3 linked regions of the Homo sapiens genome follow. The protein of the gene in region 1 purifies or fractionates together with the protein of each later gene. This does not show direct contact. Each region holds a gene or a part of one and is shown on either strand. Other genes may lie near its edges.

The links. The genes of interacting proteins can lie anywhere in the genome.
Region 2: the proteins of GPI (region 1) and ACO2 purify together in Homo sapiens (affinity purification with mass spectrometry; 2 studies listed by BioGRID, with this or other methods). This does not show direct contact.
Region 3: the proteins of GPI (region 1) and PGM1 fractionate together in Homo sapiens (co-fractionation; 2 studies listed by BioGRID). This does not show direct contact.

What each region holds. Positions count from the first base shown.
Region 1 is NC_000019.10:34,388,964-34,396,985, reverse strand, and holds part of GPI (glucose-6-phosphate isomerase), read right to left. Parts: intron 3,739-8,022; coding exon 3,678-3,738; intron 3,259-3,677; coding exon 3,215-3,258; intron 3,073-3,214; coding exon 2,920-3,072; intron 686-2,919; coding exon 556-685; intron 406-555; coding exon 329-405; intron 1-328. UniProt on the Homo sapiens protein: In the cytoplasm, catalyzes the conversion of glucose-6-phosphate to fructose-6-phosphate, the second step in glycolysis, and the reverse reaction during gluconeogenesis.
Region 2 is NC_000022.11:41,506,826-41,514,847, reverse strand, and holds part of ACO2 (aconitate hydratase, mitochondrial precursor), read right to left. Parts: intron 7,058-8,022; coding exon 6,799-7,057; intron 2,973-6,798; coding exon 2,880-2,972; intron 1-2,879. UniProt on the Homo sapiens protein: Catalyzes the isomerization of citrate to isocitrate via cis-aconitate.
Region 3 is NC_000001.11:63,652,120-63,660,141, reverse strand, and holds part of PGM1 (phosphoglucomutase-1), read right to left. Parts: intron 5,811-8,022; coding exon 5,676-5,810; intron 557-5,675; coding exon 467-556; 3' UTR 1-466. UniProt on the Homo sapiens protein: Catalyzes the reversible isomerization of alpha-D-glucose 1-phosphate to alpha-D-glucose 6-phosphate. The mechanism proceeds via the intermediate compound alpha-D-glucose 1,6-bisphosphate.

The sequences.
Region 1 (8,022 bases):
TACAAAAATTAGCTGGCCATGGTGGTGAGTGCCAGTAGTCCCAGCTACTTGGGAGGCTGAGGCATAAGAATCACTTGAGGCCGGGAGGGGAAGGTTGCAGTGAGCCAAGATCGTGCCACTGCACTCCAGCCTGGGCGACAGAGCAAGACTCTGTCCCCCCTCCCCACCCCACAAAAGAAGAGTGTTGTTTTAAGCCTCCATGTTTGTTATCATTTGTTACGGCAGGAATAGAAAACTAACGTGATTGCCAACCAATGCACCAGGTTTTCAGAGGTCTGGGTGCAATGTGAGCCAGACCCCCCAGATGGGGCCAGATGGGGGCTCTTACCTTGTGATGCAGACCCTTCCGTATGGGGTGCTGGGTCTGGACCGGGATGAGGAAGTCACAGGGTATCATCTTGGTGCCTGTGAAGGGCACTGTGGTCACCCACATGACCCCAGCCCATGGGAGCTAGCCATATGGCCTAGAGGAGGGCACTGACCTAAGTGAGATATCTCTTCTGGAAGATCCTTTCCCTCCCCCAACATCACCCTTCCCAGGCCACAGGGGCCTACCTTGGTGGATGAGCTGGTAAAAAGCATGCTGGCCATTGGTCCCTGGCTCCCCCCACACAATGGGGCCTGTCTGGTGGTCCACACGGGTTCCAGATTTGGTGATGTATTTCCCATTGGACTCCATGTCGCCCTGGAAAAGGAACAGAAACCCAGTTCTTGGCAAAATGAAAGAACATTTAAAAAGAAAGAAAGAGGCTGAGCGCAGTGGCTCAAGCCTGTAATTCCAGCACTTTGGGAGGCCAAGGCAGGCGGATCACCTGAGGTTGGAAGTTTGAGACCAGCCTGATTAACATGGAGAAACCCTGTCTCTACTAAAAATACAAAATTAGCCAGGTGTGATGGCGCATGCCTGTAATCCCAGCTGCTTGGGAGGCTGAGGCAGGAGAATCGCTTGAACCCGGGAGGCGGAGGTTGTGGTGAGCCGAGATCATGCCACTGCACTCCAGACTGGGCAACAAGAGCAAAACTCCAACTCAAAAAAAAAGAAAAAAAAAAAAAAAGGAAAAGAAAGGAAAAGAAAGAAAAAAAACCCAACCCTCTTCCTGCAAGTCTTGATCCTTCACACACTGTACGCAAATCCTGCTCCTTCCTGCACCATGCCAAAGTCCTGCCCAGATGCTCCAGGCAGACCCACCCTGCCCTGACACCGTGAGGTGGACCTGCACACGTGTCCACAGGCACGATCCCCTTCCTCCCCACACCAGTGAGGACACAGCCTCCCAACCTTTCCTGCTTAAGCCACTGTGCAGGAAGGACTCATGCCCAGGAAAAGGTGGGTCTGGAGGTCAGGCAAGGACCTCCCTAAAGACAAAATCGGTCACAAAATCAGCTCATTTCTTAAGGGAGAGCAGGCTGGGGTCCAGAGTGCACAGCTTCTTTTTTTCCCAAAGAGACAGAGTCTCACTCTGTCACTCAGGCTGGAGTACAGTGGTAGAATCATTGCTCACTGAAGCCTCGACCTCTTGGGCTCAAGCAAGCCTCTTGCCTCAGCCTCCCAAGTAGCTGGGACTATAGGTGCCGCACCACCATGCCTGGCTACTGTTAGTTTTTGTGGGTTTTTTTTGTAGAGACCGGGCCTCACTACGTTGCCCAGGCTGGTCTTGAACTCCTGGGCTCAAGCAATTCCCCCCAGCCTCTGCCTCCCAAGGTGCTGGGATTGCAGGCATCAGCCACCATGCCTGGCTAAGAGTACAGCCTTTGAGGGCTGTCACCACAACTAAATGCTAGGCTTTGGGTACCCACCTGGGCCCTGGTCATGGCAACCCTCACCAAGGCAGCTGGGATTTGGGGAACCTTGGCCTCTCCTTCAGTCACAGGATTTGCTTCCAGGTGTTGGTGAAGCCTTCTGTACCTGCCCAGAGCAACTCAAGAGCTGCTGGACAGGGACTGGCTTTGTACTAAACAAAAGCAAGGATAGGGTTGGGCATGGTGGCTCATGCCTGTAATCCCAGCACTTTGGGAGGCCAAGGCAGGTGGATCGCTTGAGGCCAGGAGTTCGAAACCAGCCTGGGCAACATAGTGAAACCCCGTTTCCACTAAAAATACAAAAATTAGCCAGGCAAGGTGGTGCATGCCTGCAATCCCAGCTACTCGGGAGGCTGAGGCACAGGAATTGCTTGAACTCAGGAAGCGGAGGTTGCAATGAGCCGAGATCGCGCCACTGCACTCCTGCCTGGGAAACAGAGTGAGAATCTGTTCAAAAAAAAAAAAGCAGGGACAGGTGTGGAAAAGCTTTCTGGGACATAATGTGACTAGGAGAGGGCCTGCTAAGCCTCTCGGGGGGCTCTGGAGATCCCAAGGGAGAAGAGGGCCATGTAGTCCAAAGAGGCCACCACAGACTAGATACACACTTGCTTTTCTGGAGGGATAAAGGCAGTGCAGGCTATAAGGGATTCCAGCTTGCAGCCCCACCCTATGGCCAAATCCCACCTCCTCAGACATGGACAGACCCAGGTCCTCATACCTGTACCAGATCCTTCCTCCCCAGATACTAACAGACCTAGGGCCTCATACCAGGGCTAGATCCTACGTCCTCAGACACTATGGTAGGCATGCATAGTGATGTGCAAGAAAGAAGTGACCCCAGCTGAGAAACATCCCCTGAGTCAAGCCAGGACCTCCCTAGCCAGGGCACCATGATCACCAGTCATGCCCCTCCCATGGTGATCAAACTCAGATGACACTCAAATGGAACCAACCTCAGTTACAAAGATTCATCCTGAGACAAGGAGCACAGATGGACCTTGGCCAGGCCCAAGGGCAATGGGGCAAAGAGCTCCTGGAGGAGCTGAAACCCAGGTTCCTAGACCTCCCAGACCCCCCACAAATCTTGCTGACTCCAAGGCCTGGCTTGGCAGCTGGTACCTGCTGGAAGTACGCAGCAAAGCGGTGCAGGTACTGGTCATAGGGCAGCATGGCGTGTGTCTCACACCCAAAGCAGTTGATGTACCAGATACCCAGCAGGGCCAGCAAGACGGGGGCGTTCTTCTCCAGGGGCGTCGTGCGGAAGTGCTGGTCCTGAAACAGGAGCAGGATGAGTGGGAGCTGAGCAGCTGCACGGGGAGGGGAGGGACAGGACAGTGGGGGAGAAAGCGGGGGACCAGGACCAACACACGCGCCTCTGGCCAGCACTTGGCAGAGAACCAGCCTCAGCACTCACCATCCAGTGAGCCCCCGAGAGCAGCTGCTCGAAGTTGTCAAAACCTGTGACACAAAAGCAGAGTCAACAGAAGTGGCCACACCCTGCGTCCTGTGGGCAGTGGGCACAGCTCCTTCTGCAACGAAGGAAGGCTGCATGGAGAGCCAGAAGATACGACATGGGAGGACTCGGACCTAGACAAAGCCCCTCCAGTGAGAGGTGGCCCTGAGTGCAGGGATCTGACTCTGCCTAGGATAGGAGAGAAACAGGACTGCAGTTGTGAGGGGCAAAGACGGGGGCCAACTTGCACACGCAAAAAAACCCAGACCTTCCTTCTGGACATGAAATAAATATCCCAGCCAGCTGCAGAGAGGCCAGCAGCCTGTGAGGACAGCATGATGTTCAGGGACACAAGCCCCCTACCCCGACCTTAGACTGCAACACTGTCTCCCACAGGGGCTGCAAGACACAGAAACACACTCACCCACGTGCAGGGCAATGGAGAGTCCGATGGCCGACCACAGCGAGTAGCGTCCTCCCACCCACTAGGAGAGACAGGACAAGGTGCTGAGGGAGGGCCGGCACACCCCGCCCCCCACCTCCTGCCGGAAACCCTGTCCCTGGTCTTGCACAGGGGCGTCTCGGAGGGCCCTGGCCCAACCCACCTCCAGGAAGCAAGGCAGCAGGCAGGTGCTGGCAACACATGGGAAGACCAACAGGGCAGACTACAGATGACTGACCACAGCCACAAGACAAACTGAAGAGCTTACCGTGGTCTTCCCTGAGATGTCGGGCCCTGTCTCTGCAGACACCAGCAGACCCAGGACCTCATACCTGTGCCAGGGCCCACCTCCTCAGACACGGACACACCCAGGGCCTCATACCTGCGCCAGGGCCCACCTCCTCAGACACGGACAGACCCCAGGCCTCATACCTGTGCCAGGGCCCACCTCCTCAGACACGGACACACCCAGATCCTCATACTCATACCAGATCCTACCTCCTCAGATATGGACAGACCCAGGGTCTCACACCCATGCCCAGCCTCACCTCCCCAGACACTGGCAGACCCAAGGCCTCATACCTGCACACAGCTTCAACTCTTTAGACATGGTCAGACCCAGATGCTCATGCCTGTGCCAGATCCTACCTCCTCAGACATTGAAAAACCCAGATCCTCATACCTGTATGAGATCCTACCTCCTCAGATACTGACAGACCCAGATCCTCATACCAGGGCCAGATCCTACTTCTTCAGACACTAGAAGACACAGACCCTCCTACCAGGGACAGATCCTACCTCCTCAAATACTGACAAACCCAGATCCTCATACCAGGGCCAGATCCAACCACTTCAGACACTGACAGACTCAGGTCTTCATACCTGTATCAGATGCTACCTCCTCAGACATAGACCCAGATCCTAATACCTGTATCAGATCCTACTTCCTCAGATACAGAGACATGAAGATCCTCACACCTGTACCAGATTCCTAATTCCTCAGACACTGACACACACACAGATCCTCATACCTGTACCAGATTCCTACCTCTTCAGATATTGACAGACTCAGATCCTCATAAGGGGGCCAGATCCAACCTCCTCAGAAATTGACAGACTGAGATCTTCTTACTAGGGCCAGATCCTACCTCCTCAGAAACTGACAGATGCAGATCCTCTTACCAGTGCCAGATCCTACCTCCTCAGACATTAACAGACCCAGATCCTCACACCTGTACCAGATCCTACCTTCTCAGACATTGAAAGACCCAGATCCTTATACCTGCACCAGATCCTACCTCCTCAGACATGAACAGAACCAAATCCTCATACTCATGCCAGATCTTACCTCCAGACATGACAGACCCAGATCCTCATACCTGTACCAGATACTGCCTCCTCAGACATTGACAGACCCAGATCCTCATGCTTATGCCAGATCCTACCTCCTCAGTCACTGACAGAACCAGATTCTCATAATTAATACCAGATCCCACCTCCTCAGACACTAGAAGATCCAGATTCTCATACCTGTGCCAAATGCCACCTCCTCAGACACCCGAAGACCCAGATCCTCACAACTGTACCAGATCCTACCTCCTCAGATACTGACAGACCCAGATCCTCATACATGTACCAAATTCCCACCTCTTCAGAAATTGACAGACCCGGATCCTCATACCAGGGACACATCCTACCTGCTCAGACATGGACAGACCCGGATTCTCATACCAGGGCCAGATCCTACCTCCTCAGACATTGACAGACCCAGATCCTCATACCTATAAGAGATCGTACCTCCTAAGTCACTGGAAGACACATCTCCTCATTCCTGTACCAGATGGTAACTCCTCAGACTTTGACAGACGCAGATCCTCATACCTGTACCAGATTCCTACCTCCTCTGATATTGACAGACCCAGATCCTCATTCCTGTACCAGATGGTAACTCCTCAGACATGGACAGTCCTAGATCCTCATACCAGGGCCAGATCTTACCTCCTTAGACATGGACAGACCCAGATCCTCATACCAGGACCCGATCCCACCTCCTCAGATACTGATGGACACAGATCCTCATACTTGTACCCAGCCTCACTTCCCCAGACACTAGAAGACTCAGGGCTTCATACCTGTGCCAGATGCTATCTCCTCAGGCACTGGAAGCCCAAGGGCCTCAAACCTGAGTCCAAACTCACCTCCTCAAACACTGGAAGACGCAGATCCTCATATCTGTGCCAGGTGCTACCTCCTCAGACATGGAAGACCCATATCCTCATACCTGTGCCAGGTGCTACCTACTCAGACACGGGAAGACCCAGATCCTCATACCTGTGCCAGGTGCTACCTCCTCAGACACAGGAAGACCCAGATCCTCATACCTGTGCCAGGTGCTACCTCCTCAGACACGGGAAGACCCAGATACTCATACCTGTGCCAGGTGCTACCTCCTCAGACACTGGAAGACCCAGATTCTCATACCTGTGCCAGGTGCTACCTCCTCAGACATGGAAGACCCATATCCTCATACCTGTGCCAGATGCTACCTCCTCAAACATTGGGAAGACCCAGATCCTCATACCTGTGCCAGGTGCTACCTTCTCAGACACAGGAAGACCCAGATTTCATACCTGTACTAGATGTTACCTCCTCAGACACCAGCAGACCCAGGGCCTCATACCTGTAACCTGCTGTTATCTCCTCAGACACCAGCAGACCCAGGGCCTCATACTTGTACCAGATCCTACCTCCTCACACACTGGAAGACCCAGATGTCATACCTGTACTTAGCCCACCTCCTTGGATACCTCTTCCAGCACCACATACCTGTACCAGGCCCTACTTCCATAGACACTTGCAGACCCAGAGCCCCTTACCGGTGCCAGGACCCACCTTCTCAGTCTCATACTTGTGCCCAGGTATGCTTCCTTGGACAATGAAAGACCCAGCAGCTCTCTGCTACACTTGGCTAGGTCTCCTCAGATATTAAAAACCCACAGCTACATTTCTGTTCCCCAGCCCACCTGCTTGAACAGTGGCCCAGTGCCTCATACTTGTGCCAGGCCCCACATCCTCAGATACTGACAAACCCAGATCCTCACACCTGTGCCATTCTTTGTTGAACAATGAAGACTCATCACTTTGTACCTGTGCCCATTCCCAACTCCTCAGGTGGTACTGACAGATCCAGAACCTTAGACCTGTGCCTCACCCCACCTCCTGGACACTGACAGGCCCAGTGGGTCATATCTGGGCTTGACCGATCTTCTCGGCCTATCACCTAGGCCTATCATTCACACTGCACCTTCTCAAGCCACACCTGCAAGCTCCACTTGGTGCCATCAGAGTCCTCAGAACTTCACGGATGTCTTCCTAACAGCTGTTTATGGAGCACCTCCCACATTTCTAGCACAGGCAACGGACACAGAGTGTGGGAGAGAGACGTACATCAAATAATCATGCCAATAAATGTGAAACTGAGAAACAAGTGCTGAGGAGAAATTGGAACATGGTGCTGAGGCCACTTATAAAAGGAACCTGAGGGGTACTTGACCCTTGATCTCAAGAACGAGCAGGCATGACCCAGAGAAGCACTGAGGGAGCATTCCAGCAGCCATAACAGCACATGCAAAGGTCCCGTGGCCAAAGCAGTCTTTCTCAAGCGTGACAGAATTAAGGCCCACAGAAAATGATCTGAGTGACTTCTCAGTTCTCCCAAGGATGGTCCAAGACTAGTAACCTTCTAGACACGAAGGAGAGGTGCCCACTTATTACATCCAGTAGATGCCTTGGGCTGTGAGGGCTTAATTCTCTCCTGGAAGCCCACTGAGGCAGGGGGAAGCATAGCACCTTCCAGAGGATAAAGGAAGGGGTGGGGACCGCAGGGTGGAAGCTGAGAGGCACGGTGGGAGGACTGAGAACAGTCTGCGGCTAAGACAAGGACAGAAGCAAACAAGCCACTTTGAAGCCCCGGAGATGGACTGGGGAGTGCAGAGGACTCATTCTGGGAGCTCTCCAGTGTGGCCGAGAGGTTTCTGGCTTGGGCAATGAGATGACCGGTGGGGCCACTCACTTGGAAAGGCTCTGGGTTTCCGGGAACCTTACCTGACAGACGCAGTCCTACAGACTACATCATGCTTGACATAGGCTCTCACATCTCATCTAACAGATGCAGTTCTATTTTTTTCTTTTTTTTTTAAGAGACAGGGTCTTGCTCTGTTGCCCAGGTGGAGTGCAGTGGCATGATCACAGCTCACCGCAGCCTCAAACTCCTGGGCTCAAGTGATCCTCCCATCTCAGCCTCCCCAGTAGCTGGGACTACAGGCAC
Region 2 (8,022 bases), on another chromosome or scaffold:
CGTCCACTTCAGCATCTGGAGGTGGCTCTGAGAACCCATGTGACTTGCTCAAGGCGCGATGCCACCCTGCCTCATCACCTGTCCCATTTCACAGTACTCCCTTCACTGAGGCGCTCCTCCCAGCCGTGGGGAGCACTTCCCCCAAAACATTTGGTAAGAAAGGCAGCAACACCTCAACACCCAAGTGCTCAACACCTTGGGTGCTGTATAGGCTCAACACCCAAGTGTGGCCCAGGCACCAGGCACCTCTGAGGCACTGGCCCCCTGAAGCTGCAGGACACTGCTTGGCAAGCCCTGAGCCAGGCGTCCTGTATCGGGGGGTCTGAGGTCTGGCCCCACCATCTACTAGTTGTTGTGGGACCATGGACAAGTCACTTCTCTCGGAGCTCAGTTTCCCTATCAAGAAATAGCTAACAATCGTGCTCACATCATTGGTTCACTGATGACTGGATGAGATCCTGTCCATGAGGCACAGAATAGTGCCTGCGGGAAGCAACATTTTTATTTATTGTTTTGCAGCAAGAGCCTTCACCTGAGGTTCTGCCGCTCATCAGTCAGATGGAGTTAGTGCCCCACCCGGGGATGTGGGGAAGAACACATGAGAGGTGTGACAGGCTCTGTGAACTCTCAGGACCCACCAGTGCTCCCAGAAATCTTACAGAAACCCCAGGGCCTCTGCCTCAGGACAAGCATCTGCCTAGCAGACTCTAAGGTCCAAAGGTCTCATCTCTTGGGGATGCAGAGGGAAGACCTGGCTGCGAAGAACTGGCCAATGCTGCCACGTACAAGGATTTAAGACTAGTGCATCCCTAAAGAGCCTCAAGCTTGTAAAAGTTGGATCCACGAAGGCTGGGCACACAGAATTCGGGGTGGTCTACACGGTGTAGACACTTGTGGTCCACACGGTGTAGACACTTGTGGTCCACATCCAGGGGGAGAGGTCAGGCAGACATGAGGACTGCAGAAGATGTCACGATGACGCTGGCCGTGACAGTGAGCTCCCCGGTCTGTGGGTGTGGCTGGACAGATGGGGGTGAGGGCTGGGAAGAAGGACTAATGCCTAGAACTACACCTGGAAATTCAGCCATCCATCCACACAACACACACATACATTAAGGACCTGCTCTGTACTGACCTGGTCCCAAACCCAGAGCTAGAGAGGAATAAATAAGCCACAGTCCCTGTCCCCACAGAGCACATGATCCAGTGCAGAAAGCACTTGGCAGATGCTGGAACATAATGTGAAGAGATCCCACAGAGGATCCACTGGAAGCCACTGTGCCAGGCACGGGGAGGGCCGGGGAGGCTCCACAGAGGAACCAGAAAGCTGTGATGTGGAGGAAGGTCTGCGGGCCAAGTGGGGCCAGGGCACTTCCCAGAGGGAAAGGGGTTCAGGTTTGGGTTGGACCTAATGGACTGAGGCTGCTGAAGACGTGACATCAAGGCGGGAAGAAAGTAAAGCTGCAAAGTACTCCCATGGCCCCTGGGCATTTTCTTTTTAAAGAAACAAACACACGAGCTGCTGTATGCTTAGCAGCTAGCCGGTGGCAGATGTGAGCTGCCATCACTCACGGCTCCAAACTTTGGCCCAGGAGCTGCCATAAAGGCCTGGGCATTTGTACTGAGGTAGAAAGGGAGACACCTGCATTGCAGTGCCCTTTGTAACAGAAGGCCAAGACTGGGTCCACCTGACTCCCTAACCCTGCTGCAGAGAGGGGCTTTCTAGTCCCCACAGGCCGCTGCAAACGGCCATTCCACGCAGCCCCTTCCTGGCAAGAGTGATGGTTGGGCAGGGCAGAGGAGTGATCCCCTGCTGGCTCTGGTTTCAGAGCGGGGCGGTGCTGGGAGCCCATGCGGCGTCAGATTACAGCCTGACTCAGCACATCCTGAGGAGGCCAGGACAGTGAGGTCTGGGATGGAGGTGGGGGGAAGGGCCACCTTGCAAAGGTGCGAAGAGGCAGGTTTCATACATACAGGGTGGATGTAAATGGACACAAACTAGGTCAGTGGTCCCTAACAGTGCCCTTGGAAGAAAGGGAAGCACCCACCTCCCCAGGATATACACGTTCACACTTGCACTTCCAGAGACAAAACTGTCCAACTGTCCACCAAAAGAAGATCCATCCTTGGGACACCTCAGAGGAGCCCCCGGCTGACATGGCCACATGACCTATGGTACCTTCACCCTACAGAACACCATGAAGGAGCCAAAAAGAAATCCGAGGAGCGCCACGTGCAGAAGCAGAAAGAGCTCTGGGGGCGAGGGAGGCGGCAGAGCAGCACGGTGGCATGGGGCACTCGCTCCAGACCAGCCCTCCTGCCCACAGGCCTGGCTCCACAGTAAGCCAGCTAGGTGTCCCTGGGCAAGAAGGTTAACATCTCTGTGCCTCAGCTGCCTCCTCTGTAGGGTGTGGATAGTAAAAGCACCTACCTCACAGGGCATGGCAAATATCTTTCAAGTGCTCAGCCTAGTACCTGAGACACAGTATGGGCTCATCAAATGTCAGTGATGCATGCCACAAGGGGTGACACTTGTGAAAAAAAACAAAATAATACCATGTTCTGTATGAGAGTTTATGGGAATAGAGATGCTTGAGTACACACCCAGAAGACAATGTGGAAAGAAACATGTCGCACTTAAAATGCTGGTTACCTGGGTGGTTAGGAGGTATTATTTTAACTTCTCACCCAGAAAATGAGCACGTATAATGACATAATGAAAATCAGTTTCAAAACAAAGGAGGAAGAGCATAAGAGCTGATGGATATGTCATCCAGTTCCCCTCAGCCCCCCTGGGCCTCAAACCCCCTCCCCCCATAGGCCTGGAACATACTTCTCTGGCTTGGGCCCTTGGGACGGCAGACTGAGCCCAGCTTTACCTGGTGAATGATTCCAGATCCAGGCTTCCAGAAGCCCACGCCATATTTGGCACCTGCAGTTGCCAGGAAATTATAAACTTCCTGGTTGATGTCCTATTGAGACAAATCAATAATTGGGCGTTAGCAACATGGTTTGTGTCCAGGTGACCCTCACCAAGCCCTCCCCACCCCATCAGCCTCCCTTCTGACTCTGAAATACTGGCACTGGAGACAGGCCCTCTCTTAGAGACCTTCTAAAAATAATTCCAAAGAGCTTGGATGTTGGCCCAGTCTCCACTAGCAGTGTCAGAGAGAAGGACAGGGGAGCAGAGATGGAGCCCCAGTTCTGTGACACCTGGCCAGGGTGGTGGGTCTGGAACAAGTCCCTGCCCTGGTCTGGGTCTCAGTTTCCTTATCTGGAGAAGGGACTGGTCTAAATAATTGCCAAGAGTGCCTGTGGCACTCAAGTCCCCAGATGAGGCCAGCAGTGCAGAGGCAGGCCCTGGCCTAGGCGCAGTGGCTGGGTGCAGTGGCTCACGCCTGTAATCCCAACACTTTGGGAGGCTGAGGCAGGCAGATCACTTGAGGTCAGGAGTTCAAGACCAGCCTGGCCAACATGGCGAAACCCTGTCTCTACTAAAAATACAAAAATTAGCCAGGCATGGTAGTGCACACCTGTAATTCCAGTTACTCGGGAGGCTGAGGCACAAGAATTGGTTGAACCTGGGAGACAAGGATGCAATGAGCCGAGATCGTGCCACTGCACTCCAGCCTACAAGACAGAGCGAGACTGTCTCAAAAAATAAAAATAAGAATAAAATAAATAAAAATTAGCTGTGCACCTGCGGTCCCAGCTACTTGCAGGCCGAGGCAGGAAGATCACTTGAGCCCAGGAGTTCAAGGCTGCAATGAGCCGAGATCGCACCACTACACTCCAGCCTGAGTGACAGGGCAAGACCCTGCCTCAAAACAAAACAAAAACCCCAGAGGCTTTTTTTGAAATAACTTGCTGGAGATCCCAGGCTTAGACGACACCTGAGAGAGCCCCCTGGACTGGTGTCTGACTGTCGGAAGTGCTGAATTCTTGGTAATGTGTTTGATGGGCCCAAATGGAAGGCTGTCGAAGGGACCACTGTTCTGAAAAGGAGGTTTCAGCCAAACGAAATGATGACACGGGCTGTAGCCATCCTGCCTATAATCTGAAGGAAGCTTCCTTGAGGGACAGGGAAGGGCCCACTGCACAGCAGATGTGAGGCCAGGGTTTATCTGGAAGACATGGGAGGTCCCTGTGTGGGGTCAGTGAGACTGACCCCAGTAACAAAACGGTGGGATTCTAGTGGACTCTACTGAGTCTCAAAGGAGGAACTAGGAAATGGGACCTGCCAGCCTCCGGCATGGGAGAGCGATGCTTCAGAGAAGGGACCTCAGCCAGTGCCCTCGGACCCTTGATGAGATACACTCAAACCACACACCCCTTCACTGAAACTCCAGACCAGTGTGTGCCCTCTGAAGGCCCACTGGGTTCCCCCAGGTAAGAGAATGGCAAAGAACGTGGGTTTCCAGAGCAGTCTCTTTCCAATTAATAATTAATACATCAGCTTTTTCATTTACAAATCGGTCACTTATGAAATTGGTATCCAGGACAGGAGGCTGTGGTCGTGTCTGGGCGCATGTGACTACACGTCTGTGTTAAGTGTGAGGAAGGGGTGTGGGAGGACCCCAGACTGGTGCCAGAGTCTCGGCCTGGACTCAGCCTGGATCCATCTCTGGTTCTGTGACCCTAGACAGGTCACTGCCTCTGAGCCCTAGCCAGAGGGACACTTTACAAATACACGTAATAATGACCACATTCTAGGCCGGGCGTGGTGGCTCACACCTATAATCCCAGCACTTTGGGAGGCCGAGGTGGGTGGATCACCTGAGGTCAGGAGTTTGAAACCAGCCTGGCCAACGTGGTGAAACCCTGTCTCTAGTAAAAATACAAAAATTAGCCAGGTATGGTGGTGGGTGCCTGTAATCCCAGCTACTCGGGAGGCTGAGGCATGAGAATCGCTTGAACCCAGGAGGCGGAGGTTGCAGTGAGCCGAGATTGCAGTGAGCCGAGATTGTGTGTCACTGCACTCCAGCCTGGGGGATAGAGCAAGACTCTGTCTCAAAAAAAAAAAAAAAAAAAAGACCATATTCTTTCTCCGCTTAAACTGTTCTAGGACTCTGAGGATGGTGACCATAGCGTTCCCACAGCCCTCGCGTTCCTGGCTGCCCCTGCCCACCTCATACCACCCGCTCTTCCAAACACAGAGAACTCCAGCAGTACAGGCCCCCTCTCACTTCCACAAAAGCATCAAGTTTCTTCCTGGCTCAGGGTCTTTGCAAATGCTGTTCTTTCTAGCATGTTCTTCCTCCAGTCAATGCAACTCATATGTTCAGTCCTCAGGTTATCTGTCACATCCTCAAAGAAGCTCTCTCTTTCCCCCAGCATCTAAATTAGACCTCTTTTTTATACTGACCAAGTCCCGCACTTTCCCTTCCTAACACATACCCAGATCTGCAGTTACCTACCTCGGCCATTGTTTAGTGTCCACACCCACAAGCAGATCCCTGAAGGCAGGGCCCCTGCCTGACTTGTTCACACTGAACCTCAGTACCTAGCCCAGTGCCTGGCACATAAAGAATGTTCAATTTGTTGAACGCATGAGGGAATGAGCTCTGAATGCTATGAGTGTGCATCTCATCTCCAGAAGATTCACTCTGAGCCCATAAAGCAAGCAGAAAGCCAGCCCCAGAAGGTAGCAGCCCTGTTGTGGGCAGCTGTCCCCAGGGCTGCAGAGGACCCACGTTCCCGGCCATGTGCAGTTCCCGGCACTGTGGGAGCTCCTGTAACATTATTACCCCCACCAGTGTTGTTGCTAATGTGGAAACCGCCGGCCGGCAGGCAGGACTGTCCTTTCAGCTGAGGGGAAAGAGCCACTGTGGAGCCAGGATACCACCAGGGGGCCAGGGTGGAAGAGAGGGTCTGAGTGAGAGCGCCGCCCCGAGTGTTTCCCATGGGGCTGGGAGGCTTTGAGCCATGCTGACCCTGGGAGCTGGAGCACTTTCAATCACATGCCCACAGGCCGCAGCCCTGCCAGCATTCAGCTCCTGCCAACGCCCCTCCCCGTGAGGGGGACCCACTCCCACTGCAGGGGCTGGAGAGTGGGGAGGCCCAGAGCTGGGAGAGAGAGGCCCGCTGTTGCCAAGAGCAGGCTGACACAAAGGTCCCACAAGCCGAGCCTGGGAGAAGGAGCAGGAACTCGATTTCATAGAAGGGTGGGGGAAAAGCCTTCAGCATGGCATACAGCCACCCCCATGTAGTTAAGCAAAACTCACAGAAGAATGGCCCCCAAAGGAGGCTCCTCAGTGACAGAGCACCAGAGTGGGAGCCAGGATCAGCATTGAGCCCTAATCGTGCCCTCATGTAGTTACAGAACTCAAGTATGATGCCACTGCCGCCTCAAATTTACAAATAGTGACCCTAGCACGCCTACCTCCCGGAGAGGGTCCTTGGAGGGTCAGAGGAGAGCGGGAGTGGGTGCAAATGGGATGCTGGCAAACTATGCTAAGATGCACCCCTCACTGCTCAGGCAGACAGGGAGGCCTGCATGGCCCCTTCCAGAGCACCTGGCAGGATCCACATCATCCTCCAACAGGACAGAAAAAGGACCTGCAGTGTGGTAAGGTCAAGGATGATTTTTTCTTTCTTTAGGCTTCCTCTGTATTTTTTAACATAATGAGCAAGTGCTATTTTTAGAAAGAGAAACAAGTAAAATCAAGTTTTAAAAGCAGACCAATCCAAAGAGGTGTGAGAATTTGGAGGCAATGCCCTGGTTTGCTCCAGTGTGAGGGTGAGGCCTCTCGCCCAGTCTTGCCCACTTGCCCACCCCCAAAGCCACCTTCTGCTCACCTTGGCCCGGCGCAGGTCTTTCTCGCCCCCAACCTGGGCTTCAATCAGATGGTCACAGTGGATGGTGGATGGCACAGCCACCTTGGACAGCCCGCTGCTGATGAACTGGAGCATGGCCATCTGGGCCGTCGCATCCTGCATGGCCACACGGTCCGGCCGCAGCCGCAGGTACGACTTGCCTCGCTCAATTTCCTGGCTGGCGGGGTCATCCAGGTGTCCATACACAATCTTCTCCGAGAGTGTCAGCGGCCGGTTCAGTCTGTGGGGAGAAGAGCAGAAGGGTGGCCTGGTGCTAGCTGCACGGCCTCCTCCCGCCCTGCCTCTCCCTCTCAGTCCATGTGGCAACCTCAACAGTGGCCAGGGACAGGGAGTCTGAACTCAGGACCTCAACGTTCCACTTGGGTGGGGACTGCTGGGTCCTGTTCACTGCACCACCTCCTCACCTCCTGCAGCACCTGGCACTTGTTAGGTGCTCCACAATTACTTGATGAGTAAGTGAATGACAACATCACAAGAGGGCAGCGCTGGTTCTTTTCAAAGGATCCTGGCTTTCCCAGCATCGTAATTCCTACTAAGTCCCCGCAACATGCATATCTCATCATTCCTGCCATTTAACAACAACAACAACCAAGAAAGCCATTTAACAACAACCAAGAAACAGGCTCAGGAGAGTGACCAAGTTCACAGCTAGATTTCGCTACTTCCCTCTGTGCCCTCAGCCCCACTAAGGCACAGGGAATCAGGACCAGCATCCCCTTCACCTGTCCACCCTGTCCGCCATCTACAACCCTCCACACCTCAGGCCTGGGATGCCTGGCTACCCAACTATGACACTAAGACTTTGCCCATTAGCTCCAGACATAGACAGGAGTATCTGTCAGTTTTCAAGAACAGAGACCGGGTCACTGCCACTGGCCTCTCACAGCTCCTCCTCCTCCTAGACCCCATTTCCCCGGAGGCCCCACCCCTCCCTTCCTCATCAGAGCCAAAATGGCAGTCCAAACCTGCCCTGGGGTCCGGCCCTGTCAGGACTCAACCGTCTTCTCCCCACAAGCCTCCCAGCCATCTAGACTGAGCTCTGCGCGGGTCCACTCTCCCTGCCAGGCTCAACGTTCCGGCTGACTCCCGGCTGCACCCACACAACAGAGCAAAGGGGCTGTTGTGGCCGCCCTGCCTGCCACAACAGCCCCTTTCAGACCTCACGCTCTGCCCCCCAGAATTCTC
Region 3 (8,022 bases), on another chromosome or scaffold:
GAACTGATTGGACAGAAGGCACTAGAAATTGCATTTTGTTGGGTTACATGTAAACAGGAAATGGGGGGAAAGATTCACAAAAGAGAAAGGAACTTGCACCATCATTTCATTGCCACATCCTAAGGATGAAGAATGGCCTCACTCACTGCTGATGCTCCACCTATAGCTTACATTGTAGTGTAAACTGTACCTGATGGCTAAGGAGACAAATACCCACGCAGCAGCAATGCAGGAGGGCATGAAAAGGAATTGAGATTGATCTAAGCCCGCAGGTCCTCTTTCCCTCACAGCTCCCAAGGGCATCTTGTTTGGCAGTGCCTTGTAAATGCACTGCTCGTCAACTGGTTAGTGAAAAAGTCAAATCCTAAAATGCTTGGTGAATACATTTTGTTTCTGTCATGCTCTTCAATCAGATGACTTGGATGGGTCCGGGGGTGGAGGGACGTACCACATCAGGCCTGTCTTCTTAGGTGATGACAGTGGGTGCAGTGCGTCCCGTCCTCTCCTGCAGCTGGGACACTTTCAGAGCAATGGAAATAAGGGGGGCCAACATGACCTGAGGAAGACATAGAGAGAAGCTTTTCCATCACTTCCTCTAAACACAGATGCTTAGCTCCAAACCCGTACGTCTGACTGCCTACTTCCAGGTCTCCAAGGCTCCTCAAACTCCACAAATCCAAAAACAAACACATGTTATTTCCCCCAATACCTAGTTCCAGCAGTTTCTATTTCAGTGGATCAACACTACAGTCTTTCATGTAAAGTGAACAACTAGGAGTTGCTCCTGACATCTTCCTCTGCATTTTCCCCATGCCCAGTCCATGAGCAGGCCTCAATGACTTTTCCCCGCTAAATCTCTCTCCATGGCCCCCTTTTCTCTCCACTCTCCTGCTGTTAAGTCTTGCTAAGTCAATGTCCTGTCTCTTACCTGGAGCAGTGAGTGCCTCCACATCCACTTGTGCATCTTCCAATTTCTTTCCCACACTGTTCCCAATGGGACTGATGTGGTTTGGCTCTGTGTCCCCACTCAAATCTCATCTTGTAGCTCCCATAATTCCCAAGTGTTGTGGGAGGGACCCGGTGGGAGATGATTGAATCATGGGGGTGGGTCTTTTCTGTGCTGTTCTCATGATAGTGAATGGGTCTCATGAGATCTAATGGTTTTAAAAACAGGAGTTTCCCTGCACAATTTCTCTCTTTTGCCTGCTGCCATTCATGTAAGACATGACTTGCTCTTTCTTGCCTTCCACCATGATTGTGAGGCTTCCCCAGCCACGTGAAGTGTAAGTCCAATTAAACCTCTTTCTTTTGTAAATTGCCCAGTCTCAGGTATGTCTTTATCAGCAGTGTGAAAACAGACTAATACAGGAATCTTTTTTTTTTTTTTTTGAGATGGAGTTTCACTCTTGTTGCCCAGGCTGGAGTGCAATGCTGCGATCTTGGCTCACCACAATCTCTGGCTCCCAGGTTCAAGCAATTCTCCTGCCTCAGCCTCTCTAGTGACTGGGATTACAGGCATGCGCCACCACGCCCGGCTAATTTTGTATTTTTAGTAGAGATGGGGTTTCTCCATGTTGGTCAGGCTGGTCTTGAACTCCCGACCTCAGGTGATCTGCCTGCCTTGGCCTCCCAAAGTGTTGGGATTACAGGCGTGAGCCACCGCACCCGGCCTAATACAGGAATCTTTAAAAATGCAACAACCCCTCCCCACATCTACTTCTCGCTTAAAGAAAAAAAAAAAAAAGAGAGAATTCTGTTGCTTAATAAATGCTTTCAATATTAAAAAAAAAAAAAAACTACTAATCTGGTTGAACTGCCCATTTTACAGATGAGAAAACTGATACCCAAAGAGATGAAGTGATTTGACTAAATGACTCAATAGCAGAGCCAGGAGTAGTACATTTTCTACTGCTGAATGCTACTTTTTCTTATCTAAATCTCCACCGATCCATTATACCTGGAAAAGGAGAATCAACTCCACCTGCTGAAACTACCACATTTCCCCTTAGGGCTTGGGCAGTCCCCACAAAGTGCTGATGGCCTAGCAGCTGCAGAATAAGGAAAGGCAGCTCCCCGGCTAGATGGTGATACACCTGGGCATTGTGGGAACCTCACACCATCCACTGCCATTCCACCTGCTGAGGACTATGGTTCAGAGGAAACAAATTTCATTCACTCTTTGAATCTACCACGTGCCAGGCATTTATCTTGATGATCAAAAGACAAACACAATTTCCTTCTTCCTTTTCTCTTGTGCTATTAAGTGTCTATAATGCAGACCCCATTGCCTTTGGTTGAAGTTTTAGGGATGCCTACAACACAACAAGGTACTGGTGATGACTGAAACTGGGGCCTGGCCACTGGAAAAAATGTAAAAGTGAAGCATTCTCTCATCTCCCACTTTCTGTAATAAAAGCAACTATACTACTCATGTGAGGTACCTACAATGGTCAAATTCACAGACACAGGAAGGAGAAAGGTGGTACCAGGGATTGTGAAAAGGGAGAAGCAGGGAGGTGCTGTTCAATGGGTACAGAGTTTTAGTTTTGGGGGAAAAAAGTTTTAGAGATACGTTGGACAACAATATGAATATGTACAACATTACTAAACTATATACTTAAAAATGGTTATAATAGCATTATGTTACACTTAAAGTTAGACTAAAAAAACTAAGAGTGCTGCTTATTCTGAAAAGTTAATCCTATATGCCAGCCACAGTGTTTAAACATTTTACATTTATTATCTCCTTAAACCCCGGTAACAACTAGATGAAGTAGGTATTACTCTGCCATTTGACAGACAAGGAAACCAAGATTCATAAAATTGTAACAACTTACCCAGGGACACACAGTTATTAAGTGGCAGGAATAGAATTTAAAACAAGATCTCTTTAACTTTGCTCAAAACCACTATGCCAGGGGTTTCCAAATGAGTTTCACAGGATTTTAATTAGGTGTTAAAAGAAAAAAGCCTTTGTGGAAAAATAAGCATGGCAAATGCTATTTATTTTATTTTACTTTCAATTTTTTAATAAAAATTGTTTATGTTTAAGGTATATAATATGATGTCTTGATATACAAATACATAGTGAACTGATTACTAGAGTCAAGCCAACTAACATTATCAATCTTGTCACCTACTTACCTTTTTTGTTGTGGTGGTGATAGTGAGAACAATTAAGATCTATTCTCCTAGTACATTTCAAGTGTTATTCATTATAGCCATCATGTTGTACATTCCATCTCTAGAACTGCTACATCCTACATAACTGAAATTTTGTACCCTTTGGACCAATATCTCTCCATTTTCCCCATTCACTACCCCCTAGTAAGCCCCTTTCTGCTCTGTTTCTATGAGATTCACTTTTTTTAGATCCCACATACAAGTGAAATCATGCAGTATTTGCCTTTCTGTGTCTGGCTTATTTCACTTAGCATAATGTCCTCCAGGTTCATCCATGTTATTGCAAATGGCAAGATTGGCAAGATTTTGGTTTTTGTTGTTTTAAGGCAGAATAATTTTCCATTGTGGTATACACACACACACACACACACACACACACACACACACCACAATGTCTTCATTCATCTGTAGATGGGCACTTAGGCTGGTTCCATATCTTGACTATTGTGAATAATATTGAATGAACAAGAGAGAACAGATATCTCTTTGACATATTTATTTCAGTTCCTCTGAATATATACCCAGAAGAGGGATTACTGGATCGTATATTAGTACTAAAATATTTTTAACTTTTTGAGGAACCTCCATATTTTGGTTATTCCAAAATAGCTATACCAATTTATATTCCCACCAATAGTGTCTGATGGTTCCCTTTTCTCCACATCCTTCCCAACACTTGTTATCTTTTGTCTTTTTGAGAACAGCCATCCTAACAGGTGTGAGGTGACAGCTCATTGTGGTTTTGATTTTCATTTCCCTGATGATTAGTGATGTGGACCACCTTTTCATACGCCTGTTGGCCATTTGTATGTTTTCTTTGGAGAAATGTCCTTCAGCAAATGCTATGTAAACAGGCACCTTTACTGCAAGTCTTCTCAGCACCCTCTTTTTTTCTTTCCTTTTCTTTTTTTAGAGATGGGGTCTTGCTATGTCACCAGGCTGAAGCGCAGTGGGTATTCACAGGTGCAATCCCACTACTCATCGGCATGGGAGTTTTGACCTGCTCTGTTTCCAACTTGGGCCGGTTCACCCCTCCTTATGCAACCTGGTGGTTCCCCTCTCGGGAGGTACCATATTGATGCCAAACTTAGTGCAGACACCCGACAGGCATAGCACACTATAGCCCAGAACTCCTACGCTCAAGTGATCTTCCTGCCTCAGCTTCCTGAGTAGCTGGGACCACAGGTGCAGGCCACCATGTCCGAAATCTTGGAGCCTTTATGGTGCATTGCATTGTATGCTGTGAATCACCAAGAAGGGGCTAATATACCACAACACTTCCCCAACTTTTTTTTAAGCTATGGAGCTCTGGTTGAGATAAGGATTGTGAAAAACACTTAAAGAAACTGTCCTGTCCTTCACTGCTTCCCCTTGGCTCCTCCATTTTTGGGGGTTGTCCTTCAAGTTCACTGTCCCACCCTTTGCTCCCAGAGTCCCTCCTTACTCTGATATACTTCTGAAGACTTTTGGGGGAATGGCTGAGGAACCCAGCTTACCAAGCTGCAGGTCTGCAGACTGTTCTGTGAAGACACATGAAACTGCCTCTCCCTGCCCCCACCAAATCTAAGACCCAGTGGTGTGTTCTGCCCAAGCAGGTGATCAGACCAAACAAAGCAACAAAATGCTGCAGACAGAGCAGAACACCAGATGAGGGGCTGATTTAAAGACCAATTATCCTGGGTTGGGTGCAGTGGCTCACACATATAATCCCAGCACTTTGGGAGGCTGAGGTAGGAGGATTACTTGAGGCTAGGAATTCAAGACCAGCCTAGGCAATGTACTAAGACCTCCTCCCTACAAAAAGAAAAAAAAAAAAAAGGAAATGAGCAGAGCATGGTGGCACGTGCCTGTAATCCGAGCTACTCAGGTAGCTGAGGTAGGAGGATTGCTTGAGCCCAGAAGGTGGATGTTGCAGTGAGCTGAGATTGTGCCATTGCACTCCAGCCTGGGCAACAGAGTGAGACCCTGTCTCAAAAAAAAAAAAAAAAAAAGAGAGATTCATTATCCTTACTAGGCATGTAAACCTATTAACTGTTGCTTAACTTTTCTGTGCCTCAGTTTCCTTATCTGTAGCAGGGAGAATAACAGTCTAAGTTATTTGAGAATTAAATGAGTATATTTTCATAATGGGCTTACAACACAGCCTGGCAAACCATAAATGCTCAGAAAATTTTTTATTTTTAATTAATTAATTAATTAATTTTTGATATAAGGTCTCACTCTTGCTCAGGCTGAAGTGCAGTGGTGTGATCTTGGCTCACTGCAGGCTTGACCTCCTGGGCTCAGGTGATCCTCCCACCTCAGCCTCCCTATTTTTATTATTATAATTATTATCTATAATGTTGACATGGAGAAAGAAACATGGAAGAAAGTAAGCACAGCTGGTACCTTGTTGAGTCATTTGAGAAATGGGCATTGAAACACAGGCTCAATGGGAAACTATCATTCCCTTGAACAGAAAGAACTAACCAGGGCACAGGGCTGGGCGTTACCTGGGGGTCCTGGTTAATCTTGGCAACGTCCTTCTCATAGCTATCGATGTACAGCCGAATGGTGGCCCCGGCACTCCCAGTGCCGCTCAGTCGGAAGACGATTCGAGAACCATCTGTGAAAATGAGGCGCAAGCCCTGGAAAAGATAAGCAGAGATTTTTTTCCCCAAATGCTGGGAGACTGAAGGCTGGCAAATTATGAGGGGTCTATTTGGGGATGTAATTTCATCCATACTTGTTCATTGGAGGGTTAAATCCTTGATAAATGGCAGCAGCTGCACCTTGTGAGCCTGCCTTCCGTCACCCTCTCTGCATCCAGCTGATGGGGGCTTAGCTACGGTGGGAGAAGCATTTCCAGGGTCAGGGGAGACCTGACCTCAGTGATGCTGGGTGATGTGAGGGCTTCCCTCCTCTCCCCACTTCCCTGTGATTTATGGACTAACCATTCCAGTTTGAAGCTTAATAATGAAGCACATAAAGCTGCTAGATGCAAAAATTCAGCCCCCAGATCAAGAGGGAAACATGGACCAAAGGGGCTGAAACCAGAGCTGAAGAGGTTTCAGGCAGATGAGGGGAAGGACTCTTACAAACCACTAGCAAAGGTCCTCAAAAGAGAACAGGAAGTCAGAGGTCCCAAATGGCAGAGACTGGCTATTCCCAACCTAACAAGCAGGAGCCAGTGGCCAATCTCCTGCCAATCCCTGATGGACCCAAAGCGAGGTCCGTGTGAAGTGCCAAGCCCATCCTTCTCTCTGCTGCCCTCTCTTTTTCCTCCCCAGCGGTATCTCTGGACATCAATTATCTTCTCACTTGGGGAAAAATGTGTGGGAACTCTGGGGTAGATATTTCCCAACCTGAGGGAAGAAGGCTGGGACAGAAGTTGCCTGAGGACTCTTCAGTCTTTATGAGTCTATCCATCCTCTGTAAAAAGGAGAACCTTGCATAACACCAAAGACTGACCAAAAAGATGCTGCTCTTCACCTGCTGTTCGTCACCAATCCCCATCTGGTGTTTAATGGTGCCATTCATTAGCACTGATTAGTGAAGACAGTAGATGAAATACACAGAGGATATGCCACAGTTAGTCACTATGGGAAGGATACGGTCCATTTTCACTGACCATTTCTTGCTTTCTAGGAACACACCAGGGTTGGTCTCCTTTCTTCACAGCTTCAACTTGAAGCCTCTAAAATTCTTTTCACTAGATTGCAGATGTTCTATCTATATATGTTGGATCATATTTTTCCCTCCTATCTGGTCTCACATCAAAATGCTTGGATTTTCTGATTACAGAAAGTGGGGCAGCTGCTTTCTTTACAGCACAGAGGGCAGCTCTCGAGCTTAGGCCACTGTCTCCTATACACACCTTTACACCTCTTCTCCCTCCTGGCAGATGCCAGAGGCACTGCAGAGCTGGGATTTACTTTTCCTTGACTTCCCTTCTGTCTCTGAAGGCTTAATGACACAAACTTCTGTCCCACTCTGCCATCCCTCAGCTCCACTCCTTTTCTACACCCCTTTCTTCCTCAACCACAGGTCTCTCTTCTAATTATCTCAGGCATAATTTACAATCATCCAAACTGGACCCCAAGTTCTCACAAATGGCAAACAGGCACAAGGATGAGAAACCACTTGTGCTAGAAGTTGAGGAGGGGAGACTCCAGGCACTGAGGGTTGCTGTGGCCCATCCATCCATTCACTGCCTGCTCCCCAGAGGGAAGCCTCCAGTAAATCCCACGGCCCGGCCCTTCCAAACCCTATGAGATGCCTTGACAAGGACCAGGCCAAAAATCTGGGTCAATTGGAAAAAAGTAAACTGGGAGGTTGTAACAGAATCTTCATCCTGCTCTTTATTCTATTATGAATTGTGAGAGATGAGTTTACTCTGTGACAACAGGCAACAGAAGCAGAGGTGAGAGAACCCTGGTGCGTAAGTGTTCATGAGAAGCCAGGAGAAAGCCTGACCCAGCCTGCAGCCTAGGGTACCCGGCACACAGTAAGGGAAGCACTAACAATTCTGTCCACATCTAGAGATGCTCCAGGTCCTAAACTGTGGCGTCTTGCCAGGTACTGCTGTGTTAGGTGGGGTGCCACTCATGTGCTGCGAATGACGATGGTCAACGTTTCTAAGTCTGGGAATGCCTCATCTATTTTTCTCTCCTTTAGAAATTAGAACATACGAGAGAAACGTATAAGTATAATGCCACTTACATGCTGTCACTCTGCTATAATCTGCTGACAGAAAAGAGAGGAGTTGACATCTAAGTTCCCACAGTTCTCCCTCTTTCTTAGATTCTGGGGCTCCTTTCTGCATGTACAATGGACACATCATCTTGCATATCATTCCAG